Regions from separate parts of the Homo sapiens genome. Here all the other regions are reported to be linked to region 3. Evidence: microRNA targets listed by miRTarBase, many of them from high-throughput screens and not tested one by one. Region 3 holds a microRNA gene; each other region holds the end of a gene's coding sequence.

Region 1 (4,087 bases), not on the chromosome of region 3:
GGAGGTGAAGCCGGCCTACCACTGCAGCGAGCACCGGCACAGCTTTCCCGCCCTGTACTACGAGGAGGGTGCCGACAGCCTGAGCCAGCGCGTGTCCTTCCTCAAGCCGCTGACCCGCTCCAAGCGTGACTCCACCTACTCGCAGCTCTCCCCCAGACACTACTACTCAGGGTACTCCTCCAGCCCCGAGTACTCATCCGAGAGCACGCACAAGATCTGGGAGCGCTTCCGGCCCTACAAGAAGCACCACCGGGAGGAGGTGTACATGGCCGCCGGTCACGCCCTGCGCAAGAAGGTCCAGTTCGCCAAGGACGAGGATCTGCATGACATCCTTGATTACTGGAAGGGGGTCTCCGCCCAGCAGAAGCTGTGACCCCCCCCTTCCTCCCTGGTGAGGTCGGAGCCAGAGGGCTGGGGGCCTTTTGGGGGAAGGGTCCAGGCGGCCAGGGCGGGGAGCAGACTCGGGGGCCAAGGCCCAGGAGAGGACGCACATGCAGACCCGCACGCACGCACGCACACACACACCTGACCACCACCCGACTGTGAACAAACCAACATCCGACAATAACGGACAGGAAAACAGAGACACATTTTCCTTAAAGTTTACAAACTGATACCGAAACCAGTCGTCTTTACTGTGCTGCCCAGGGACTCTGCTGGGGTGTGCAGGGCCGGGGGGCTGGCGGGGGGAGGAAGGAAGCCAAGAGAGGGTGTGGGGTCTGGGGGGTCTGGGGCTAGAAACAGGTGTGGGGGTCAAGAAAGCTGGAGTAGAGAGGGACTGAAGCCCCTCTAGGGCAGGGAGAGGGTCCCTTCCCAAGCTGGGAGTCAAGTCACCTGCAGATTTAGCATTAGACATCGGGCAATGTCTCCTTCCACTTTAGAGAGGGGGGGAAACTGAGGCCCAGAGAAGGGAGTTGACAACCCCAGGGTCACACAGCAGCTTAGCCTCAAGTCCCCCAACTTCCCAGCCCAGTGCTGTCCCGGAACCCCCTGCAGCTCTCTTGTGGACCCCTGCCCGCCCTGTGCCCACCCCACATCCCTTTCCGAAGCTGTGGTCCCTTGGGGCTGAGGGACTTGGGAATCAGGCAGGTGCTTTTTCTTCCTAGAAAGCCACATGGCAGTGCCCCCAGAGTGTGCAGCTGTGATTCAGAATCCTGGGGGGCTTTTGACCCCTATGCCGGCACCCGGGAGAAGGGAGAGGGTCCTGTTGACGGGAAAGGAGCCGAGGCAGGGCGACATTCCACCAGCCCACTTCAAGTGTCTTCCACGTGGCCTGGGAAGAGTGGGGCGTGTGGCGGGCAGGCCAGCTCCCAGGACGTCTCAGGTGCAGGCTCCCGGCCCCAGCTTCTCTGGTCCTCCGAGACCCCTGCCCACCGCAGAAGGGCAGCGGTGCACTGTGATGCCTGGAGGGCTGCAGGGAGGAGCTGTCATGGGGGACTTCCTGCCTGTCCCCATGGCCTGTGTCCCCACCTGCCCGACCCCATCGTGGGATCTCGGCTCCTATCTCAGCCGCCCACCCGGGGAAGGAGGGCTTTCTCACCCATCCCCTCTGGGCTGCTCATCCAGGCCTGGCCCCCTGGCCAGAGGGGCTCCCATGTTTCCGTGGCAATGGCCACTTCCCTCTTTCTGACCCCCCCACCCAACATCAAACAAAGCACAAACAGTGAGGCCCCCACCCGAGAGAGGGTTGAGGAGCAGGCTGGGTTCGTGGCGCCCCAGCCCCTCCCAGCCAGCCTCTGTCACCATGGTAACCCTGTGCCTGGCAGTTGGTGCCCAGAGTGACCGTTGGGCTCTGGGGTTCTCTGTCCATGTAGGCGGTGGCAGAGGGTGGTGAGGGAGGGCCAGCCTGGCAGCAGCTCCTGGGGCCAGCTCTTTTGGGAGGCAAATCTGCGGTCCTGAGACTGGGGTCTTGACCAGTCAGGATGCTGATGGGCCGGAGTCCATCATCCTTCACCTCTGGGTGGGAGCTGGCCCAGCGGGGTGTGGGGACGCCTCTACTAGCAGCTTTGCCCGCCTAGCAACATGTCGCTTGGCTGCCACCCACCTCAGCTTGGGGGGCCCCGGCTCTCCCCACGCCCCTGCCAGAGACCCCCAGTCTAGGGCCTGTGGCCCACATGGGTTTCCTGAGATTTGGGGAGTGTGACTGAGGGGCGAGGGTAGGCACTGGAATGGGTCCAAGACCGGCACTGTTGGTGGGCAGGGGCTCTGACCAGGAAAGCTAGTGCCATCCCCTGGGGACCCCAACGACCTTCCTGCTGGGGGCAGGGGGTGAGGGAGGACAGCAGAGGGCTAGGAGGCTCGGGCTCAGCTGAGTACCTCTCTCACACCAACTTTGGGGTTAACGAAGCCCAGGGCTCACTTTGAGGGTGACATTTGCAAAGAAAAGACTGTTCTCCTGGGGCGAGGAGGGGAGGGGGCGGCATGGATACGCGGAGCAGACCTCCTCCCCCGGCCCCCAAAACCTGCCCCCCAACCCCTCCTCACACCCCCTTGGCACAACTGAGAAAAGCAAGCAGGCAGAGAAGCCAGGGGTGTGAGGAAGCAGACTCCCTGTTATATTTGCATGACGATTTTACTGTATTTTTCTGAGCAAACATCTGTCGTGTATGTGCCAGTTTGTCCAGACTCCCCCGCCCCCTCTCTGATGCCCTGCTTTCCCACATTCTGTCTGTTGTGATCTGACGAGCAGCTCTTGAAACCCAGGGAGGGGTCAGCTCTGCAAAAACAGACCCAAAACAGGTGCCACCAAGACACAGCCCTGCCCCACACCCACCTCCTGTGTTTCTGAGCATTGGGCCCATGTGCCACCTCCCTTCCTCCCTCCCTCTCTCCACTGCCACCTCCCTTGTCCCCAGTTCCTTCCCCTCCTCCATGCCAGGGAGGGCAGCCCCAGGGAAGCCTCCTCAAGGGCTCTTGTCCCGGTGGAAGGGACTGTCTGTCCGTCCCGCTTGTTCCCGTTTTGTAGATGAGGAAGTCAGGGCTCCCAGACGGGCCTGGTGAATTGGCTGGCCAGCTGGGGTGGAGGATCAGTCACACTGCTGAGTGTAGGAGGCCAGGAGCTTGGGGCTTCGTGGGGGGCTTCAGGGAGAGGGTGGGGGCTTTGAGAAAGGAACCCGTGGGAAGAAGGAGCACGCCTGGGCTGGGCCCCAGGGAGGGTTCCCAGCAGCAGGAGTTAGGGGCCTGCGCTTGCCATTTCCCCATCCTTTCTGCGTGAAGATATTTAGGAAACCTCAGACTCTCTGACTGCAGGGACAGGGGCCCTTCCAAAGAGCAGGACTCTGATGATCCAGGAGGGGAACTGGCCTTGAAGACCCAGTTCATGTGGTTCTTTGTGAGGCAGAGCGGGGTCTAAGACTCGGGTCTCTGGCCTCCCAGCCAGGCCAGAGCCCCAACTGCTCAGCTTGGGGAGAGCCCACCCGGAGGCTGGCCTGCATCTGTGTCCCACGTCCTGCTCAGGATGAGTTTTTCCCAGGCGGGAGGGAAGTATTCACAAAATGTTGCCATCCAAGGTCTGGGTTTGTGATGATGATGAGCATGGTGGAGCTGGGCTGTGGTCTGGGGCAGGCCAGCAGGGCAGACACCAGGAAAAGAGGGCAGGGGGGGCCACAGGGAGGGAGGGGAGATGGAGGCCCGGTGGAGCGAGGGATGTGTGGGTGCCACGCCCTGGACCTCTGCGGGGAGGCCTCCTGCCTTGGGCCGGAACAAGGTCACACCTGGGCTTGCCTGCCTCTGTTGGAGAATCTCCTCTGAAGCTGTTTCTGGGAAGTAGCACAATGGGTCTGCTCCTTCCTGGGAGGGCACAGCAGGTGCAGCTAACCCTCTGTTGGAGCTTATGGCCTTCCAGTAGCAAAACACAGAGGTCTGGCATGAAGGCAAGAAAGCCTGGTTGGTGGGGAAACCTCGTCACGGGTCCCGGCCTTGCTTTTCCCCGCGGCAGGAAGAGTCTCTCTCTGCCCACCAAAGAATCCCTCACCTGGGCTCCCCTCCTGAGGCAGTGCAGGAGGCCTGTGGGAGCAGCCTGTGTCCAGGCTGGGGAGCCCGTGTCTGGGTAGGTCTGGGAAAAGGGCTGTCAGGGGAGCGAGGAGGG
Region 2 (4,070 bases), not on the chromosome of region 3:
GCATTTGAGCCCAGTCTCATATTCCAATCTCCATTATTTCCCACCAGCCTTGATAGGGCCTCCTATAGCCTTTCTGCAATTCCTCAGGTCACGTCTTTCCAACCTTACTTTGGACAGTCCCCACATTTGGAGGTTTCCTCTGCTCTTCCCTGCTCTCGCCCCGGTCACTCTGGGATGGTGATTTGAATGTGAGACACAGGTGGTCTCTATCCTCTATAGACTCAGTACATGGTCAATATATGATTCAGAAAAGGGTTAGAGGCCAGGTGTGGTTGCTCACGCCTGTAATCCTAGCTCTTTGAGAGGCCATGGTGGGCAGATTGCTTGAGGTCAGGAGTTCGAGATCAGCCTGGCCAACATGGTGAAATCCCGTCTCTACTAAAAACGCAAAAATCAGCTGGGTGTGGTGGTGCGTGCCTGTAGTCCCAGCTACTCAGGAGGCTGAGGTAGGAGGATCACTTGAACCCAGGAAGGGGAGGCTGCAGTGAGCCAAGATAGCACCACTCCACTCCAGTTTGGATGACTCTACATTGACTTGTTATGTTTTTGTGAGCTCACTTACCATCTTCCTCTACAAGTTCTGCAAGTACACTGAGTGTGTGTGTGTGTGTGTGTGGTGGGGAGGTGGGGTTCAGAGGGTAGGAGCAAGGGAAGGAGCTCAAGTTGAGTTTTTACCAAAGAGGCATATGTTTTAGGTAGCCTGAGTTCCCAGTTAGATAAATTATTTATTTTACTTGCATAGATATCATTTTACTCATGGAGTATCATTTGCTCATAACATTCCCAGGGGCTGGTTAACCCTCAAGAGTAACAGAATTTAGTTTTAAACTTCCTGGGTTGCCTACTCCCTACATATCTATCAGTTGAGTTATTAATGATTATTCTCTTTTTTTGTTTGTTTGGTTACATTATTCATTTAAATGATGTACCCCTTGTGTCTTTAGGTGTTGGCTTTCTTAGCATTGCTTGACAGAGACTGAGATTAGAAACCACTCACAGTGCAAAAGTCAGGTACCTCTGCTCAGAGAACAGTTGGTGAAAAATGAAAATGGAATCTTTCTCGAGTTAGAATGTGAGATGGCAAAAAAATTGCTTAGTTAACACACAGTTGGGTTGCATATACCTTTTCAAGAATGCATGAGTTGGTTTAAGCAAGATTCATTTGTCCTATGCAGTTAGTGTGTGACTCAAATGCCAGCCATTTCCCTGTTTTTTTAGCCTTGAGTCTCAAAGTCTGTTTTGTTTTTTACCACAGACCATTTGGCTTGCTGAATTCAACACCTCTTCCAATGCCTGCTTCTCCCAAAGAATCTACTCACAGAAAGAGTTAAAGAGAAATGTAGACTTTACTAAATATTTCATAGAGGAGACCTAGGAGGAGGTTGACACAGCACACTGCTCAGCAGATGACTTAAAATTTTCCCTTAGCCATTTTTGTTCTCTCAAGTCCCTTTCATCCATACCACCACTGCTGATTTGTTCTTTCTTTTTTTCTTTTAAATCTTTTCTAGCTTTCCTTCTGACAAACTTTGCTGGAGTCCTACTCCTTTTCTCTCCTTCTTGAGAAAAATGCAAATTTTGCTCCATGTTTTGGTATAGCAGGGAAGCTTCCATCTTTTTTTACTGAAGCATAACATCAGGGCCTACATTCCATCTCAAACGGCTTGTCAAGGTCCTTCCACAAATAAGATGTTCCTCCAAAGATGATGTACAGATGCCAAGTTGGATATAGCTAGAGAAATCTCATGGCTACCCCAATCAGGAGAGAGGTTGCTGTTTCTCAGAAGTCCTCCTCCCCACTTCCAGGGTCATCATTGTCTCTCAACAACTTTGTGGGGATATAAAAACCCTCGCGGAACTGGTTTTCTGAGAGGTGTTTGAAGCAGGAATATATTATGCAGGGGATGGAGCAGCCATTCCCTGGCTAGATGACCACATCACTGTTGCACACTGATTGTTTGCTAAAGGCACAATGCTTTCCTGACCAGAAATGAAAAATGCCTGCTGCTCAATTATTGTCAATCTAACTGGAATAGAGTCAGGCCTCGTCAGATGGTTTCCCAAACACCCAGATGGTCTCTTAGATTCTGGATGGTCAGTGTGGTAGTTCTTTCCATTACATCCTTGAGATCCTGCTGTTCACACCATTCAGCAGGGCACCCTGAACCTTGTCCCCATATTCTGGCTCTGCTGAGATGAGATGCAGTCAGGTGTTACTAGTGTCTTCAATTATATACTGGGGTAGGGGGGCCTTATTTTGGTTGGAGAGCTTCCAAAATTGTGTCTGGAATCTCAGTTCCCAGGGTCTGGTCTTCTGAGATGGAAGAGGTTTTGAAGCAATTCAAACCCAGTCCTTTCATTTTCTAGACTTGGATCCTGAGTTCCAGGGAGGGGAAGGTATAGTGAATTCTTATAATTTTATGTTGCCTTGGCAACCATTTTGTATACAAGTTTAATTTCTCATACCAGAAGCCGGGCTTAGTCACCCTTGATATGGGTTTCTGGTTCTATACCACACCTCTGGCCAGAGACAAGAACTTAGAGGCATCTTTCCTGCCTAGCAGACTGGATTCCCCACTTCTCTGTTGCTTCCTTCAGACAGACCATTCAGGCATTTGCCAGTGAATTGAGAGTGACCACACCCTATTTCTTTACCTACATTGTTAACTGTCTTGCTGTCTCTGTCTGACTTCTTATTCCTGCCTCATGTAACCTAGAGAAGGAGGACTGCCCTTCAGACTCATTATGCCCTTTCTGTCCAGGATCTGTAAGTAAAAGTCTTTGAACTTGTTTTCCATTGTGGTGGTGTATTAAATTTGTGCTTTCCATCTCAGGAACAGGGGGCTGTCCCAGCCTGGTTTTCCCTGGGGGTTCCTAGGGGTGGGGTCATATGGAGTACAAGATCAGCCTCCTAGTGCCAGAGTGACAGTCAGACAGGCATAAACTGGGCATGGTTCAGTCACAAGTGTATCTGCCAGTATAGGGAAGTTTCCTGTGTGAGAGAGTCCTTGATCGCGACTTGGACAACTAAGTATTAGGCCATCTGCAGATAAAAGAAGTATCCCGTGAAGGGCACAGTGTAAACACTCACACCCAGCTCCCCTTCATTTCCCATTAGGGCAGAGTTGCTAGCTGCTCTGGTACTGGAGCCCCATTTTAACTGGAGGCTCTCAAAACAGAAGAAATAGATCAAGACCATACAGTGAATTAGAGGTTGGGCTGGGACATCCATTCATCCCTTCTGATTCTGTGTGGGGCTCTGCCCACCACACTACATTGCTTCCCTGCCTGCTATCTGAAAGATACTTCACTAAAAACTCTCTTTTTAACCCTGGAGCTGTATCTTTCCAAGAGACAGAAGGAGAAGTATACTATTTAATACCCTGTGTAGTTTGTCTTGGTCTAAAGTTTTCTTTTTGCCCAAGTGTTTGGAGGGATGAAATACTGTATGGTAGAGAGGCGCTTTCTTCCTGAAGGCCAAGAGAAACTGTTCAGTCTGAATTACTGTATAAGAAGATGGACAACACATTCTCAAGAGGAAAGGTGCTTGTATCTATGTACTGGAATGTATCCACATTGACTGATATGGTGGTGTTGACCTGCAGGTAATCCAGCAAGAATTGAGAGAGATTCTGGTATACGTGTTTCGTTTGCATTCCAGACTCACACACTGTCACCAGGGCCTGTTTTTTGATATGCTTGTTGATGAGAAGCTCCAACTTCAGATCGACAGAATTATTTGGGCATTGTACAAGAAACTGCAGTTGGCAAATGATGAAGTACAAACCAGGGAATTGGATCACCAGATTCCCATCCTGATATCTGACTCCATGGAGAATGCCATCTTTGTTCCAAGACAACTTGGTTTTGTTTAGATGCTTTGCCACTAGAAAGAGAAGTATAGAAAACAGAATTATTGAGAAGATTGTAGGTACGCATTGCAAAATTCTAAGTCTTTGTTCAAAGTTTCCCATTCAAGACCCATGTTTTCTGTAATGTTCCAATCATCTGAATATCTTCCATGTTACTCCCTCTAGAGTCTACTTATTACTCAAGGCACAGGTATAAAA
Region 3 (4,087 bases):
GAGTGGAAGAAGCAGCCGCCGCAGCCCCGGTGGAAACTCCGTGACTCTTTTCTAGCAGCCATCATGGCTGCAAGGGCCGGGCTGTGACCAAAGGAGGGGTCTGAGGCAGGGAGGGTGGCATGTGCCCTTACAGAGAAGGTCCCACAGAGCAGAGCCACCCAGAGGCACAGCCTCAAAGGACTGACCTGTTACAAGATCCCAGAGCCCTAGGCTCCCCAGGAACACTGTCACTGGAGAGATCCTCTCTGGGCCCAGACCCAACCATCACCCAACTCCAATCCTCTCCCTTGAGCCCAAGACCCTGGACCTTCCCTGGGCGGGACCACAGCAGAGCCAGCACTGACCCTCAGGTTTTGGCAAAATGTCTAGTGAGGGAACATCTTCATTTATGGTCCAACCAATTCAGTACAAAGCCTCTGCCTTCTCGCTCTGTGAGGTAAGGGGAAGGGGTCATGTTTTAGAGACAGTAATCTCCCCCTTCTCTGGACAGCCAGACATGTGGTGCCCGTTGCCACAGGGAAGGTGACATAGCAGAAGCGAGCCTTGGCTTTGGAATTTTAAAAGCTTGATTCTGAAGGTGGGTGGCAAGAACTCAGGACACTTACAGTGCATTTGGAAGAATATATGATGGGTTAAAGAATAAAAGCCTCCTCTCTCCCCCACTGGTCAAGATTCCATAGGTTGGCAGGGCTTGGGGAGCAAGGCGAATGTTGACATTTCTGGAATTCTTGAGAAAAGGACCCTGAGAAGGAGGTTGCGGCTAAAGAGGGGGAAAGTATGACAAATACTCCATATAGGTTTGGAGGTGATAAGTGTAGGCAAGCACTGGGTAGAAGAACCCACACGCTTCCTGGGTAGAGCCTGGGAAAACAGCAAGCCACAGAGCGGAACAAGGGACTGGGCTGTCTATCTTAGCAGTTGGCCTGGAACAGAATTACTGAGCTTCCTGAAGCCAGAGGGTGTGCAGGGCCAGGAGCTAGAATCTTCCACATGCTCCAAGCCACAGGTCCCCAAATAGGCTTTGTGGAAGTGAAGGAGCCCCTGGCAGACCTTGCATGACCAACTGATGACCAGATGGGGAGGGGATGTCCAGGCAGGTGCGAGCATGGACGGATGATGATAGCCGAGGAACAGAGTCTTACATGACTTAAAGCCACACCCCCACCCGACCGAGCTTAACCCCAGGAAAAGGTCAGGGGGAGACTTTGAATTGACTGAGATTAATTTCTACCACCTGCTGAAACGGGGTTCCTAATAGAAATTACATTCTGTGTTAGAAAAATAAAGTTATGCTTCTTGCAGATTAGAGTTTGTAGGCTGAGTTGTACCTACTATATAAGTAATGAATTAATTTTTTCTTTATGATTTTGTAAAGAAAAGAGAAGAAAGAAATTTCAGTAGAATAGCGCTACATTGCAAGAGAAACGGCACTTGTGATTTTTATCCATTTTCCTTCTAGTCTTTGAATTTAGAAAGCACAAGTCTCTTGCCACAAGTTCAGGTCAAATGACTGCAGCATTTTGAGTGAAACCAATAAAATCTAAGTTCATGGATTGTTCCTTTTGTTTTGTTTTCTCAATTGCTCATTCTCAGGGGTCCATATACAAGGCCATCCATCCCTGGAGACTAAGAACATGGCTCACTGCGAGAGCTAAGGAGTTTTCTGGACAAGAATGGAGGGAGGACTCCCCACCTCCAACAGGCAGTTCTATAAATAACGGCTGCTCCATGGTGGCCCCTGAAATGCAGCATTTCAGCAGCCTTGAAATGACAAAGCCTGGAGAGTAGGAGGGCAGTGGCGACGTTGCTGGGAACAACAGCTGGGACTCCCAGGAGCTGAAGGCTGAAGCCATAGGTAGCCCAGAAACCGAGGAATCCAGAAGCCCTGACTAAACCCACTGGGGCCATCCGACCCAGTCAGGCGGCAAGGGGATGGGCGGGCATGGAGCACAGATGGCCCTGGGGTAATCCTAGTGCCTCTGGTTCAGGGACCTCCAAGCTTGACTCAGCTGTTCTCCTTAATTTCATCATCCCATGGTGCACTGGGCATGCCCGAGGGCTTCTGGGAGCACAGGTAGGGCAAGGGCAATTTGGGAGGGCTGAAGAAGCCTGTGGGGAAAAGAAAAGGGAAGATGGTGACCACATAGGAGGGACAGCGGCCTTTCCAACAGGGGACCCTTGCCAGCCATGGTGAGTAGATGGAATCTGTGCCCATCCTCTGCAAGCCCCTAGCAAACGTGTGACCAGGAAAGAGTCTGAGATCATGTCACATTTCCTGAGATGAGCACGTAGGTAGAAGCTCCTTCCTTTAAGCTTTAGTTCTTACTGGGGATGGAAATTCCATCCAACAAATGTTGATATAGCTTGCTTCCTTCTAAGGGGATTTCCAGCAGGTGGAAATTGAATTGTGAGGGAACAAGTAAATCTTCCCAGAGTGTCTGAAGTCACATCGCAGCCTTAGCTTTTAGCCGGGGCTTTGTCCCTCCCTTCTAGGACAGTCTCCATGACCTCAGCTGAAAATGGGACAAAGTGGGGACCTGTGAGTCCTTACACTTGCAGTTTTCACAGGGCTGCTCAGCTTTGAGCTTGGCCACTCCCATCCTCAGGGTGTCCCAATCTGAGATCCAGGAAATCAGGAAGACTAAGAGGCTGGTGTCATGGCCCAGGGCAGAGCCTACCTGAATCATAGCTGAACCAGCAAATGGGGGTGGGGGAAGATGAAGGCTGAGTTCTCCAGTTCCCTTCATTGGCTTCCAGGTGTGCAGGTGGCTTGGGATTGAGGACTCAGATCTTCTCAGGCCCCGAGGGCATCGATGCCAGCAGGGCTGAGCACCAGTGCCTGAAGGATGTCGGAGAGGGAGACCACGCCCAAGAGATGCTGGGTCTCGTCCACTAGCACCAGCCTGTGTACCTGTGGGTCCGCAATGTTCAGTGAGGGGGCAGAGCCATGGGGCTACAGCAGCTACTGAGGTTGGTGCCAAGAATCAGGGGAAACAACCCAACATGACTGAGGGAGAGAGCGTCTCCTAGAAACCAGTTAGGGATGGTGTGACCGGCCTAAGGTGATCAGTTGGCAGTGACCCCTGGCATAAGGGCCCCATGGACAGGACCAGGTGCAGGCCAGTGTGGGCACCAGGAGTTGGTCATGAAATGGAAGGATAGGCCAGGTGCCCGATGTTCAGGGATGGCTGGAGCCGTGCATGAGAAGGACTGGGCTATATGTGTTGGGGGCATGAATGGAGGGCACACGGTACCTGCTCCCGAGCAATCCTGTCGATCACTTCCCCCAAGCTCTCGTGGGGCTGGCAGGAAAGGACTCCCTCCAGACATAGTGTCCTCTGCCTCAGGGCTTCTCCCACACTCATGTCCAGGTGGTTGTAGGTTTGCTGGGCAGCCAGGTGCTGGGGCAGAGAGAGAAGTATGGCTCCTAGTCACCCCCTTGCCTGGGCTCCTACCCTACAGATGTCAACCCCTGCATACTTGTCAAGGTCCCCCTGGTCCACAGAGGCCCCCCACCCATCCCCACACCCTTAGCCTCCCTGCAGCATCCCACCTTTCCAGCGACACTTACAATCACATCAAAGCGGGAATAGAGGCCCACGACCTGACCTGCAGAGGGTGGTTGTGGGGGGTGGGGGGAGAAAGACAGGGAAGAGGCTCCGGTCAGAACCGGGGTGCTGTGTAGAGGGCCTAGGGCTATTTGCATCAGGGTGCCACTACCAGAACCCAAGGATCAAACTTAGCATCCCAGAGTGAGACAGCCTGACATTGAGCATCCTGAGGAAATGCAGTGTGAGTAACATGGCACCACCTACAAAATAGTCTAGCCTCGAATTTATTGCCCAAATCTCTTCAAGCCTTTAGATATAATTTCAGTTTACAGGAAACCCAGGAATAGAGAACAAAGTAAAGGCCAGCTCTAGAAAGCAAACAGACAAATCTGGATGTGGGGTATCCTATAGGACAACTGACCCAGGCTTTTCAACTCACCCACGTCATAACAATTTAGGGGGAATGGAGCTGTTATAGATTTAAAGAGATTTAAGGAACAAAAGACACGAATGTAAACCATGGACTTCAATTGGAT
Region 4 (4,087 bases), not on the chromosome of region 3:
GCTCAAGCAATCCTCCTGCCTTGGCCTCCTGTGTAGCTGGGATTACAGGTGCACGCCACCATACCTGGCTAATTTTTTTTTTTTTTTTTTTTTTTTTGAGACGGAGTCTCGCTCTATTGCCTAGGCTGAGTGCAGTGGCGCAATCTCGGCTCACCGCAAGCTCCGCCTCCTGGGTTCACGCCATTCTCCTGCTTCAGCCTCCCGAGTAGCTGGGACTACAGGCGCCCGCCACCACGCCCGGCTAATTTCTGTATTTTTAGTTGAGACGGGGTTTCACCTTGTTAGCCAGGATGGTCTCGATCTCCTGACCTCGTAATCTGCCCACCTTGGCTTCCCAAAGTGCTGGGATTACACGCGTGAGCCACTGCGCCCGGCCAACCTGGCTAATTTTTTAATTTTTCTGTGAAGGGGTTTCACTATGTTGCCCAGGCTGGTCTTGAACTCCTGGGCTCAAGCTATCCTCCTGCCTCAGCCCCCGCCTCCCCAAAATGCTGGGATTACAGGGATGAGCCACTGTGCCCGGCCCTCCTTTTACTTTTTTAATATGGCTACTAAAAATGAAAAATTCCACACGTGGCCTGCATCATCTTCCTGGTGGACAGTGCTGCCTGAGAGTTCCCTTTTTGCGCTTCCTAGTGAGCTAGTGATCGACTTTACACCTAGTCCCCTTGTGATGGGAAACCCTCTGTTGAAACAGCAGGGTCCTCGCCTCACTGGACCGGGACTCAGACCAGGTGGAAATGATGATTTCATACTCATGGCCAAGCTGCCTCTCACCCCAGATGGAGGAAGTGAAAGTTCCAGCCTTTGCGGTTATTGTGGATTAAAAGCAAAAAGATTTTCGTGGAGGCGCCACCAAAGCCTGAAGTGTACCCGGTGGGCAGGACCCTCCACAGGCACCTCCACGCCCCACTCCTGCCCTGTGCCCGTAATCCCAGCACTTTGGGAGGCTGAGGCGGGCAGATCACTTGAGGTCAGGAGTTCGAGACCAGCCTCGCCAACATGGCGAAACCCCATGTCTACTAAAAAAATACAAAAATTAGCTGGGCGTGGTGGTGCACACCTGTAATCCCAGCTACTCAGGAGGCTGAGGCAGGAGAAGTGCTTGAACCCGGGAGGCAGAGGTTGCAGTGAGCTGAGAACCTGCCACTGGTCTCCAGCCTGGGCGACAGAGCAAGACTCTGTCTCAAAAAAACAAACAAACCAAAAAAACAGAAACAAAAACAAAAACAAAACCCCCAACAACTCCTGGGGACTGGACCTGAAGGGGTCTTCAGAGCGTTAAGCAGGACACGGAGGGCAGGTGAGCGAGCTGAGGGGCAGGAGCCATGGGGAGCCCCCAACAGAACCTGCTACTCCTGCAGCAACGTTTGGGCAGAAGAAAATCCTCAAATAAAACCTCCAAGAACGTGCACGCCAGTCACCGCTCATCTCGGACACGTTTATTGCTAGAATCAGGTCTTAAGTTCTAAAGCGGGTCAGAAATATCCCGCAGTGAGGAAATGTTGTAATCATTGTAAAAATAATTAGCAGGTGACTAAGATCATGACCACAACTGACAAAGACGTGTGCAGATCCCACGAAAATAGGAACATTTGCTCGACTGTCAACTTTACAAATAAAATCGGGCTCCAACCCAGGAGTGGCCGAGGGGCACTGGCGAGGGAAGGGCTGTCGGCGCTGCCGCCCGATGCCTAGCACGACTGAGACCCCTCTGCCACATGGCGGGGACGCGGGGTTCCCACCGCGTGGCCGAGCAGAAATTCCTTGAACTTCTCCCCCATCCAAGGAATTGTGGCATCTCGGAGGGCTGGACCGGCACACGCCGGCTCAGGAGGGTGCCAGGGTCTGGGAATGTTCTCTTCACAACAGAACAGGAATGTACAGTCAGCTTCTGTAAAGTGCTCCGATACTCAGTACAAAAATACAAAACACTGATGATAAACATGGCACACATGGGATCTGACGGGGGGCGGACAGCGTCGCTGATGGCCAGGGACCGGGCTGGGCAGAGTTGAGGTCGTCGGAGGGGCCAGGAGCCTGGGGACACCTGGCCACTGTGTTCTCAGGACCTTGTCACCAATGGGCTGTATGGCTGTGGGGCTCTGGTTCCCGGTTGGCACCAGCTCCTGCCCCGCCCCCTCCTGAGCCCACAGCACCCAGTGGGCGCCTCTGCCCAGGGGAGCACTTCCTGATGGAGTTTCCCCTCCCTTGTGCCCATCTGTCCCCGAGTGGCGGGAATGTCCCTGTTCACTGTATTCAGCGTCACAGGAGTGCCTCTGCCAGCACAGTGGGAGAAGGGCTGAATCCCCCCGGGATCTGCAGTTCCCAGGACCCTGGGTTCGGGAGAAGGACTTGGCCCTGGCAGGGGCTCACATGTACCCCACTGGGAACAAGGACGATCAGCCAGGACCCAGTCCTACCACCAATGCTTGGGGTGCAGAACAAGGCTTGACATGGGCCCTTTCTCCACCGGAGCTGGATCGTGGATGGATCTCACCACCCTGGGATGTCCCAGCACCTTTGATGCTGCCCAACACCTCCTTCCTCCACCCCTCCAGGGAACGGACCGTAAGCTGCAACAGCTCACTACAAGCGAGGGGCCCGCACAGCGGCCACTTGTCCACTTGCTGCAACGTCTCTAGGTGCATCCTCTGCATGCCCTGGGACATGGCGCTCTCGACAGTCTGTGATGTGCCAGCCCCCACCTGGAAGGTGGGACGCCAGCCCTGGGAGCTCATTTCCCGGGGGCTGAGGACCCTGTGCCCAGGGTGTGTACCCGCCCTGGCTGAAGCTAGAGGCCCGCTCCCCCAGACAGGCTGAGCGTGTGAACAGCAACGGTTGCCCTTGGGAAGCAGAGTTTGGGAAACAGCTGGTTTCAAAACCAATGCCAAGTAAAAAGGGGCAAAGGTCAGCCCCTTTCACGATGGGCTTCCAAACCCACAGAACCTGACTGGAGGGCCACTGATGTTCCCTCAGTGGGCCCTGCCCCGTGGCCCTCTCTGCCCATGCCCCCGTGCCTGGCTCATTCCCTGACCCTGAGGTTCATGGTGAACCTGCGTGGGGCTCTGTTTGGGAAGTGGATTCTGCCTGATTCTGGGGACAGATGCTGCCGACGCCACCTGGCCCCTCCTGGTGCCCTAACCCTTGGCTCCACTGTCGCGCGGCGGCTGTGGAGCGTGGCCCCGGCCGGCAGCTCCTTCTCAAAGCAAGGTCTGTCCTGTCCTCAGCTCCGTGCAGAGCCGGCACCGTTCCTCACTGCCTCGGAAAAACAGCTCGGAGTTGATCTCCCCGCCACCCGGATGGGGTGCTATGATTTCAGACAGCTCCCTGGTTTAGTTCTGGCTCAACTTTCCATTAAAAACTTTCCTTTTTGAAAAAAAAAAAAAGAGATTCAGAAAGTGACCCCGGCACCACCGCTAACCCTACAGAAACAGCTGCAAGGCCCAGAGCACCGACAGGCTGGCCCCTGCCAGGCGGTCATCAGTGGTTTGCTAGGGAAGAGGAGGGGACAGCTGGGTGGGCATGGTGACCCCATGGGGGTCCCCAGAGAGCAGGAAGGGTGGGCAGGGCAGGGAGGGGCCTTGCACCTTGAGTCACGGCCCTTTTAGAAGAAGATGACGTCTTCTTTGCTGGCGTCCTCCTTGGCGCTGAGTGGTGTGGCCGGCAGTGGCGAGGGAGCTGGGGGCCCGGGCAGGAGGGCTGTGCCCCCGGCCTTGAGAGAGAAGCCCTCGGAGGGGCTGTCAGCTGGCGGTGGGCTCGGGGCGGGGAAGCCAGGGTCTGGAACAGAGAGAGGGTTCAGACTGAGCAGTCGCCGGGTGGTGCCGCAGCCCCGCTGCCCTGGGACTGGGCTCATGTCAGGGGGTGGGGGCTCACCTGGTGGGGGCGCAGGACTGTGTCTGCCGGGCAGGATAGGGCTCAGCGAGCGGCGGTTCCGTGAGGTGCTCTCATCTTTCCCCATGAGCTTGTTGAGCAGCAGCTGCTGCTTCAGGTCGAAGGACGCTGGAAGAGAGAAGGTATTTGGGCCAGCTCCAGGCTGGCCAGCTGTCCCCACCCGCCAGGGCAGCCTCCGAGAGCAGAGGGGCCT
Region 5 (4,087 bases), not on the chromosome of region 3:
ATAGATGCCAAGTCCTTTCTTCTATTAGGTCTAAAGAGTCTAGAAAGATGCAAGTATGAGTTCCTTACAATTCCATTTTTATTCTCAGGAGGAACAATCCAACACCAATCTAGCTAAATTCCGCAAGCTCCAGCATGAGCTGGAGGAGGCCGAGGAACGGGCTGACATTGCTGAGTCCCAGGTGAACAAACTGCGGGTGAAGAGCCGGGAGGTTCACACAAAAGTCATAAGTGAAGAGTGATCATGTCCTGATGCCATGGAATGACTGAAGACAGGCACAAAATGTGACATCTTTGGTCATTTCCCTCTGTAATTATTGTGTATTCTACCCTGTTGCAAAGGAAATAAAGCATAGGGTAGTTTGCAAACAATATCCTTAGACTGGTCTTGTCTTTTCTCTTTCCTGAAGCCATGTCAAAGTTTGAATAGTCACCAGAGTTGTCAAACAATCACATTCAATTGGTGACTTTTTTGGGGGTCTACGGCAACACTTTAAGGCTGTAAAGATGTCACTTATCCAGAAAGACTGTTCTAATGAACAGAAATTTGGAAGTCTATTTTATTTCTTTCTAACCTTTCCTGATATCTGAGTACAGTAAAATCTTAGAAAGCTCCTGCTTCCCCTAACATGAACCTTTTTCAGGATAGTACTAGCTATATTCTCACATAGGGGATTCAAACTGAATTGTATCATTAATTCTCTTTGTTGAATAACTGTTATCAAGAATATAAATACAAAATATTCTTAATTAGCCCATGGATATTTACATTATCAATTCCAATGTACCATATGCCCACAGTAGGTGCACTGGGTAATGGGTTTGACACGACCTTGTTCTTCACGAAGCAAGTTTCAAAATTAAATTAAATATGACTCTTCTCCCTATGAAAACTACAGGGTGTCTATCAAATCTGGAGACATAGAGAATATTATTTTTACGTTATAATGTAGTATCCATGAGCTATTAGCTTATGTTTCCAATCTTTATGGTCTCCCAGATAATCATATAAAGAGCCAAAATAAATGACTAAAAGTGTCAAGAAAATATGATCTCAAAGTAGGTTATTCAAATCTATATTCAACACACATAATGATGGGTATGAGTTTGGTACAAAAAGTAGATATCATAGCAATCTGGACCACTCAGAGACGTTTTCCTAGAGGATCAAGATTTTTAAACTGGATGCAGCTGAGATGCATAGCCAAAAATATAACCTTCCTCGACAGAATAAAGGAAGAGCTAAATGGTAACTTCCCATCAAATAGAAAGCAAGAGTATCTTGGTCTAAATGGCACTGTGTGAAAATGATGTAAATTAGACATGGTAGTTTAACAGGTAAGTTGGATTCACACTGTCGCACTGGCCTTAGAAAGGGTGTGGAATTGCTCTTCTCGCTGCATAAGCCCCTCTTTCACTTTGTTCCTGTATCACGTGGAATTGCTTAAGTGCTTTATAACGTGGCAGTAATAAACAAAAACAATATCTTACTTCCTACTTATTGAAAAGTTTATCCAGAGCAAGACAAAAGGTTGTCTGAAGATTCCCATCAGATCCTATTGAGAGCATTATTAAAATGTTTTATCTTCCTGAAAATCATTACCCACATTTTGCAGGTGCCTAGTAAAGAAACAGACATGTAAGAAAGTAAAATTAGGTACCTGTGGTAACAAAGCAGGCTAATAGATGGCTAGGAAAGGCCCTCTCAGACGCACATCCCTGCAATACCCTTCCTGATGGCTTTAATCTACCCCAGGTAGAAGAGTGTCACAAGTGAGTACGCTGGACCGCAAGTCAGATGACCAGAGTCTAAACTGCTGTGTGATTTGTGGAGATTCTCTTCTATTTTTTGGATCTCAGTTGCTTTATTAGTAAAATGAGAAAGATGAATTAGATGATCCCTTATGGTAATAAAACTATGTGACCTTTACAACTAGTATATCCAGATATCTCCTTTCATAAGGCAAGCTATAGCCATTAAATCAATTGAGATATAAGTACAATAATACAGATGTGGGTGCAAAACCAGGTATATTAAGCAAATGTTGTCCCAGTCCTAGCCAGACAATGCTGACAGACAGAGACGTGAGGCCACAAAGACAGTAAAATAAACTTTTTTAAAAAATTAAAATAGAAAACAATATTCAGGTATTGTTTGTAAGCAAAATACTAAATATATCCCATGGACTGCTGATAGAGGAAAAATCATCGATGCTGCATATTTAGACAGAGAAATACCCTGTTTCCAATATTTTCTTATGTTGAGTTTCATAGAGGAAACAAGATTTCACAAGCAACTTGGGCACCAAAAAAAAATGAGAGAAGCAGGACATCTCTGTTTGGAAGGCAATGCAATTTCGGAGCAAGTCCGAAGTGCCGGTGGAATGATTTGACAATGAATAAGAGGCGACTGATTGAAGGAAACAAAAGAAGCTATCTTTGGCTGCTCTTCATGAAGCAAGTTTCAAAATTAAATTTCCAAGCAACTTTGAAAAAGCACAATAAATTGCAAAAAAAAAAAAAAAAAAAAAAAGGAAATCTTTTTGAGAGAAAGCAACGTTTTTATAACCCTCTGCTAAAGAGCAGAAGTTTTCCTCCCGAGTACACTATCTGTAACTGCGCAGGCAGTTGAAAAGACTTCACACAGGCGACTCTGTGAAACAGAAGAGCAGTAGGCAACAAAGTCCAGGGATTCCAGAACTTAGCTGTCTTTGAAACAACACCTTACATTCCAAAGGCCAACAACTTTAAGATTGCCAACGACTCAAATTATTTATAGGAGATTGATTCATATACTTAACCCAATATGAGAGGAAATATTTCTAATTATATCCAAACATCTTTAATATGAGGGGAATTAGGCTTGGAGACCTTCAATGCCAAAAACATGTTTTGCCAAATATGTTTTAAGAAAGAGGAGGAGGTTACGTGTTTTCCATATTTGAGCCTATAAAAGTACCCTTGGAATGAGTATGACTTGTCTCTCCTCATAAAGCTTCAAGGTAAGTGTGTGTGAGGACAGGGCTCTGTCTGGAGGACGGTAAGGGATGTCTGGCTGCCCGCGTGCATGCCACACATCCTGGCTCCCACTGTCCCTGGCAGCCCTGCCAGTGAAGCACCAGCTTACTCCGTAGCAATTTTAATTAGATGTTGTAGTCTTCCCAGTCATTTCCTGGTTCTCAGTTAAGAATTGTTCTATAATCGGGAATTGTTATAATTTAATCAGAAGAGGTTTGCTCTTTTTCTTACAGTTCTGATCCACTTTAAGGTCGCATCTCTACGGTAAGATTCTGATTTTTTTTTTTCTCATTCCTCACAGAGTGCAAGGAATCTTCTGCAGTGGTTTGGACAGTGGTGAGGGGCGGGGTGAGGGAAGTGATAAAAAAAATCATTTCCATTTCATGGTTGATCACGCTTCTCTTAAAAAATGGAGAATGACTTTAGAAACTGGTTCTCCTTAACTCATATCCCTCGCAATATATGAAAATGCTTTCTCAGAGTCCTTGGGAATTTTATTCACAATAGTGAATTTCATTCACTATTTCCAGCATTGTAGTTTATCTTTTAAATGACTGCATTACAATATGCAATGTAACATTTCAAAGTGTTACTCAATTATAGAGAAAATTTAAATTTTCTATACCATGGCTTTTCCTCAGCACTATAAATATAAAAACCTATGAGAGATGATGTCTAATTGGATAAATAGAATGGTCTGAATCTTTGCCTTGGAAAAAGTTGCTTAACTGCATGTTGTTTCACAATCTATAAAATAAAAATTAACGAATATATACACACACACACACACATATGTATATATACACACACACAATACGAAACATGATTGTCAGCATATTCAGCAAGATGAAGCATTTTAATTATGTTATCTGAGTCAACATAGTTTCAATGGGAGAAATGTATCCAAATGAGCTTCCCTGGAAAAGGTATCTTTATTATTATAAAGTAGAATATACATGAAGATTATTGACAGCATTAATGAATGCTAGCTAATGTGGCAAGAGGGGGATCCTGAAAAGAACAAGTTTTGTGAAATTGTTATAAAAATGTTAATAATAGAGCAAGAAAAC
Region 6 (4,087 bases), not on the chromosome of region 3:
TGCTGTCACCCTGGTGTGGTTCTTTGTTTTGTTTTATTTTTAGTTTATTTTTAAAGATAGGCTTGTAAGCGGCTCTGTCTTGGGTTGTGTCAGGCACCCCCTCTCCCCACCCCCTGCAATGCATTTTGTGGGGCACATTTTCCCCTGCGGCATTTGCTTGCAGCCCAACATACTCTCTTCATCGGCTTGCTGAGATGACTCATCCTCCCAGGCACAGCAAGAAGAAACAGGCAGCATGCCCATTGCTTGTTTATTCCTTGTTTTAATTTTCATTATTACGTTTCTCAGGAAATGCACGCCTTAGCTAACAGTTACTGGCAAAAAAATAAATAAATAAATAAGGTGTTTGAGTTCTTGCCAACATTTGGGGAAGCTGAATGAGATGCCTAGAGGAGGGTTGGCCCATCCTTTGCTTAAAGTTTTCTTTCCTTTTTTTCTTTTTTGTTTTTTTTCTGTCCTTTAGCCCATGAAGAGCATCATGCTTTTGAAGGTGGACGTGGAAAACACTAATTGCACTCTGTAAAGAATTCTTTGTCCTTTGCTGATTGGTTTTGGAAACGGTCTTAACAGGAGGGAGAGTGAAGAGAAGACTTGCCGAAGCCGATGCTGGTCAATTTAGAGTGGGTTTCTGTCCTTGCAGATGGGCAATTAGGACTCAAAGTGGCAGGTGGGGTGGGGGGAGATTGTGTGGGTTTCTACCGTCACATTACTTGCTTTTTAAAAAAAACACACACAAAAAACTTTTTTTTTGGCTTTCTAAATTCTCTGTTCTTTTCACTCTGATTTTTTTTTTTTTTTGCCGTTTAAAATTCCTTATTCAGCCTAATTATTGTTTTCTACACTCCCCTTTCATTGAGGCACAAGAAATGGGTTTCCCTTTAAGTAGCTCTGCTGTACCTAGTTAATGAGAATATGCATAATCGTGACAATACTGCTTTTGAATACCACACTGTACAAGGAGGAACACTAGCTTGGAGAAATCTGTCTTCTGATTATTTGTTGTGACACATTCCTATGTACTGTGAGCTGGGCATTGTTTTTTTCTGTCCCAGGGAAAAGAAAAACCATACTTAATGTGATTTTGCACTGACAGCACACAAATCTTTAATTTTCCTTTTTAAAACATTTTTTTTTAGTGATAAAAGGAAAATAATAGTTGGATTGCATAACATGAAAACTATAATCACAATTCAGTATCAGGATATAAATCAAGCTCTAAGTCTTTGGACCCTCTGTGGAAACATTTCTAACCCGAATTTTAATTTGGCCTTTTCAACCAAAGGCTTAGAGTGGTAGCAAGGGATTTCTTCCAATAGGAAACCTGATGTTTCTGATTTAAAGAGAAGGTGATATTTTAATTGTTTGAATTAAGCTCCTTGCAAAGTTCGGGTGTGTTTACCCACTTAGGGCTTTCTTTCCCAGTCAACGCTAACACATTTTGTTAAATGATCCCTTTCCCTGCTCACATTGTGTGTCATTTCTCATCATCAGTAGTCCTCCAGCCTGGGCAGCTGTCCCCACCCTTTTTCATGTAGGTGCAGGAAGTTAAATCTCATTTCCAGGATGCATGTGAACATTTACAAAGTTGAACTTTGAGTGCATTCTGCTCATATGAATTATTGGGATTGTTGATATATATTGTATTATGCTACCAAAGAAATATTGGTTTTATTAGAAGGAAATGGTCATCCTCTGGACCATGGAGACTAGCTCAGAATACGCTGATTTCCCTCTCCTGACTTTGCCAAGCCTTTGGCTGCTTTTGCCTGATAAAGGGCAGGGCCATCTGAAGACACTTCCCCCAGTCGGCTTTGGAGTCACGGGAGCTAGTGCCTGCTCACACATTTTTCAAAAGGGCAGTGCACTCAGAACTTCACTGTACCTGGGATTTTTAATTCCTCTTGCAGTGTTGACCAGCAGAGAGACTTGAGGCTACTTTAAGCCTCCACTATGTGTTTGTAGATAAAATTCTCCATTCAAACATTTTAAAGGACTTTGAACATTATCTGCTTATGGAAGTTGTGCCCTTCACTTGGTTAGTAACCACCTCAGCCATAATACTTACCATCATAGGTTTCTTAAAATGCTTTTTTTTTTTCCCTAAACTTGAGTTTCCTTAGTGATTTCAAAATGAAGTATAAGAATATCAGATCCAGTTAGCAAAAGCCTAGGACTTGTTTCTCCAAACATTGTACTAACATTCAACTTGTTTTAAAATTATGACTCAAGAATTTTAAAAAATTATTCTGGACATGAATTAAAACTTTTTTATAATATAAGTATTTTTCTGATTGAAAAAAGGATATAATTGACTTCACTCTAATTGTCATGTATATTTCCATAAGTAAATGGATTTTGAAGTATTTTTATTTTTTGAACTTTATTTAAAGCATTTGTGATGACATGTTCAACTTTTGCATGTATGTAGCCTTTGAAGTAAAAATAAATAGGAATGTTAGGCTCACGTTAATATTTCTAGTTTCTGTTTATGATCATGGAACATGACTAGCACACAAAGTAGATTTTTGCCCCAGTGAACTTCTGCAACTGTTTCTGACCCTTTAGAAAATACCAACTGTGAGAAGGATTTAATTTGCCTAATGTTAAAAACCTATCATCTAAATTACTTTCAGAGAGGATTTTGTCAGATTTTGGTTTGGAAATTGTTTTAATTGAATATTTAATCATAATAGACTTTGTATGAACTAAGCTGATTTAATCAGTTTAAAAACCTCTCATTACCTTCTTAGATTAAAGAAGCTAATACTGTTTTGAGATAGAAGGAAATATTTTGTGGGGCATGTGACTTTTGTGTTAAGGCAGTTTACCCATCTTGGCTGATGTGGGGAAAGTGCAAACTTCCAGTAGAATCCCGGTCTTTTCATCCAAGTGCTTGCAGGGGCAGCCTTGTAGTCTGCAAAGAACCATGCAGAAACCAAAGAGCTTGCTTTTTTGTCTTTGTAATTCCTTAGGGTCTGTGATATATGCCAGGAAATCTGATTGAAACTAATATGCTTTTTATTCTCCCATTATTCCCTAAATTGTTATATCACAGGCACTTGCCTACATTGGGAAAGTAAGGACAAATAATACCCATTTAAAGTAACTTGCCTATATTTTGACTGTCTTTCGTAAGCACTTGCTGAACTGCTGACTTAACTCAGTTTTAAGATTTCCTCTTTCCCCCCAACTTTTCCACATTTCTTAAATGAGGGTGTAATTTACTGCAAACATGTACATTTAATATAATATTGCTGTTAGATTCGTGGTACACTTTATGAAGCAAAAACATGAAAAGGAAACCACAACTCTAATAAACTTTAAATTAAAGATTAAGATGACTCTTTCTCACCCCTCTTCTTGAGTTTAGCCCATGTCTACACCATGCACACAGTCACAAGACTTTATAGCTTAGAAACTTTAGGTATAATTGGGTCCTATAGACATAATATACAATCCACCAACTGAGCCTTGGCCGAACTTGTCCCTTGTTAAAGACGTAGGGCTAGCCAGCCACAGAGCTGGGTATTGAAGTCGGCAAGTTGTATCCCGGTGCAGGCGTCCTTAAATGGAGAGTACTCAGAATCTGCCAGCCTTAACCTGCCCACTAGCCACCCTAATCAAGCATTAAATATCTGATCCAATCTGGCCACTGGTGTAACTCCGTAATCAGACATCCTGTTTGTAAACAGCTCCTCCTTCTCTCCCTCTCCCTCTCAGAGACAGAAGTGGTGCTGGGGTTTGGAGTTTGAAAATAACCTTCCTATGACAGGAAGTGGGCTTTTGCTATTAGTTGCCCAACTCTTAGAGGATCCCAGCTTGTGTCTTTAGACAAAACTGACAGCCTTTGGAACGATCGCATGGTGGCGCTGCCTTCCAGCCAACAGTTCTGGCTCAGCAGCAGAATTTATCCAGCTATGTTTGTAGAATTTTTTTAAGATCCTACTGCATTTTGCTCTTAAGCTTTTATAAAAATTTGACGAGAAAATGTAAAAATGATACTTGGCAATAAGACATTTAGTTTTCATGCACCTAATAAAAATGTGTCAAAGCTAGATCGCTCCAGATGTGCTTAAAATATCTCAAA

What was found. Region 3 holds the annotated microRNA hsa-miR-9500 (AAGGGAAGAUGGUGACCAC, at 2,125-2,143, shown strand). A microRNA usually pairs through its seed, bases 2 to 8, with sites in the 3' UTR of a target mRNA and lowers its output. Matches are read on the target gene's strand: a 7mer-m8 pairs with bases 2 to 8, a 7mer-A1 pairs with bases 2 to 7 and ends in A, and an 8mer does both.
Region 1: the mRNA of ELFN2 is a reported target of hsa-miR-9500. Seed matches in the 3' UTR shown: 7mer-m8 at 1,616-1,622.
Region 2: the mRNA of TNFSF8 is a reported target of hsa-miR-9500. Seed matches in the 3' UTR shown: 8mer at 2,981-2,988 and 7mer-m8 at 1,601-1,607.
Region 4: the mRNA of ARHGEF18 is a reported target of hsa-miR-9500. Seed matches in the 3' UTR shown: 8mer at 3,496-3,503 and 7mer-m8 at 1,663-1,669.
Region 5: the mRNA of MYH2 is a reported target of hsa-miR-9500. The part of its 3' UTR that is shown has no 7-base or 8-base seed match.
Region 6: the mRNA of EIF4E3 is a reported target of hsa-miR-9500. Seed matches in the 3' UTR shown: 7mer-A1 at 2,097-2,103 and 7mer-A1 at 3,033-3,039.

Annotation. Positions count from the first base shown.
Region 1 is chr22:37,369,358-37,373,444 of GRCh38, reverse strand. ELFN2 (extracellular leucine rich repeat and fibronectin type III domain containing 2) reads left to right here. Exons shown (of 3, transcript NM_052906.5): 3 at 1-4,087. The coding sequence ends at 373. Among named protein-coding and RNA genes, the nearest start is that of ELFN2, 56 kb to the left of the region's middle.
Region 2 is chr9:114,900,440-114,904,509 of GRCh38, forward strand. It overlaps TNFSF8 (TNF superfamily member 8), which reads right to left. Exons shown (of 4, transcript NM_001244.4): 4 at 706-3,886. The coding sequence ends at 3,492. Among named protein-coding and RNA genes, the nearest start is that of TNFSF8, 28 kb to the right of the region's middle.
Region 3 is chr2:218,820,968-218,825,054 of GRCh38, forward strand. MIR9500 (microRNA 9500) reads left to right here and starts at 2,123; the gene lies at 2,123-2,187. It overlaps PRKAG3 (protein kinase AMP-activated non-catalytic subunit gamma 3), which reads right to left. Exons shown (of 14, transcript NM_017431.4): 11 at 3,572-3,609; 12 at 3,255-3,401; 13 at 2,679-2,911; 14 at 1,341-2,109. The coding sequence ends at 2,795. RefSeq lists an enhancer at 1,895-3,094.
Region 4 is chr19:7,469,819-7,473,905 of GRCh38, reverse strand. ARHGEF18 (Rho/Rac guanine nucleotide exchange factor 18) reads right to left here. Exons shown (of 29, transcript NM_001367823.1): 28 at 3,877-4,002; 29 at 1,428-3,780. The coding sequence ends at 3,608. Among named protein-coding and RNA genes, the nearest start is that of PEX11G, 17 kb to the left of the region's middle. RefSeq lists a silencer at 702-751.
Region 5 is chr17:10,517,434-10,521,520 of GRCh38, reverse strand. MYH2 (myosin heavy chain 2) reads left to right here. Exons shown (of 40, transcript NM_017534.6): 40 at 89-373. The coding sequence ends at 241. MYH1 (myosin heavy chain 1) reads left to right here and starts at 2,979. Exons shown (of 40, transcript NM_005963.4): 1 at 2,979-3,001; 2 at 3,251-3,281. The region is part of intron 2 of MYHAS (myosin heavy chain gene cluster antisense RNA); the gene reads right to left.
Region 6 is chr3:71,681,105-71,685,191 of GRCh38, reverse strand. EIF4E3 (eukaryotic translation initiation factor 4E family member 3) reads left to right here. Exons shown (of 7, transcript NM_001134651.2): 7 at 464-4,087. The coding sequence ends at 510. Among named protein-coding and RNA genes, the nearest start is that of EIF4E3, 42 kb to the left of the region's middle.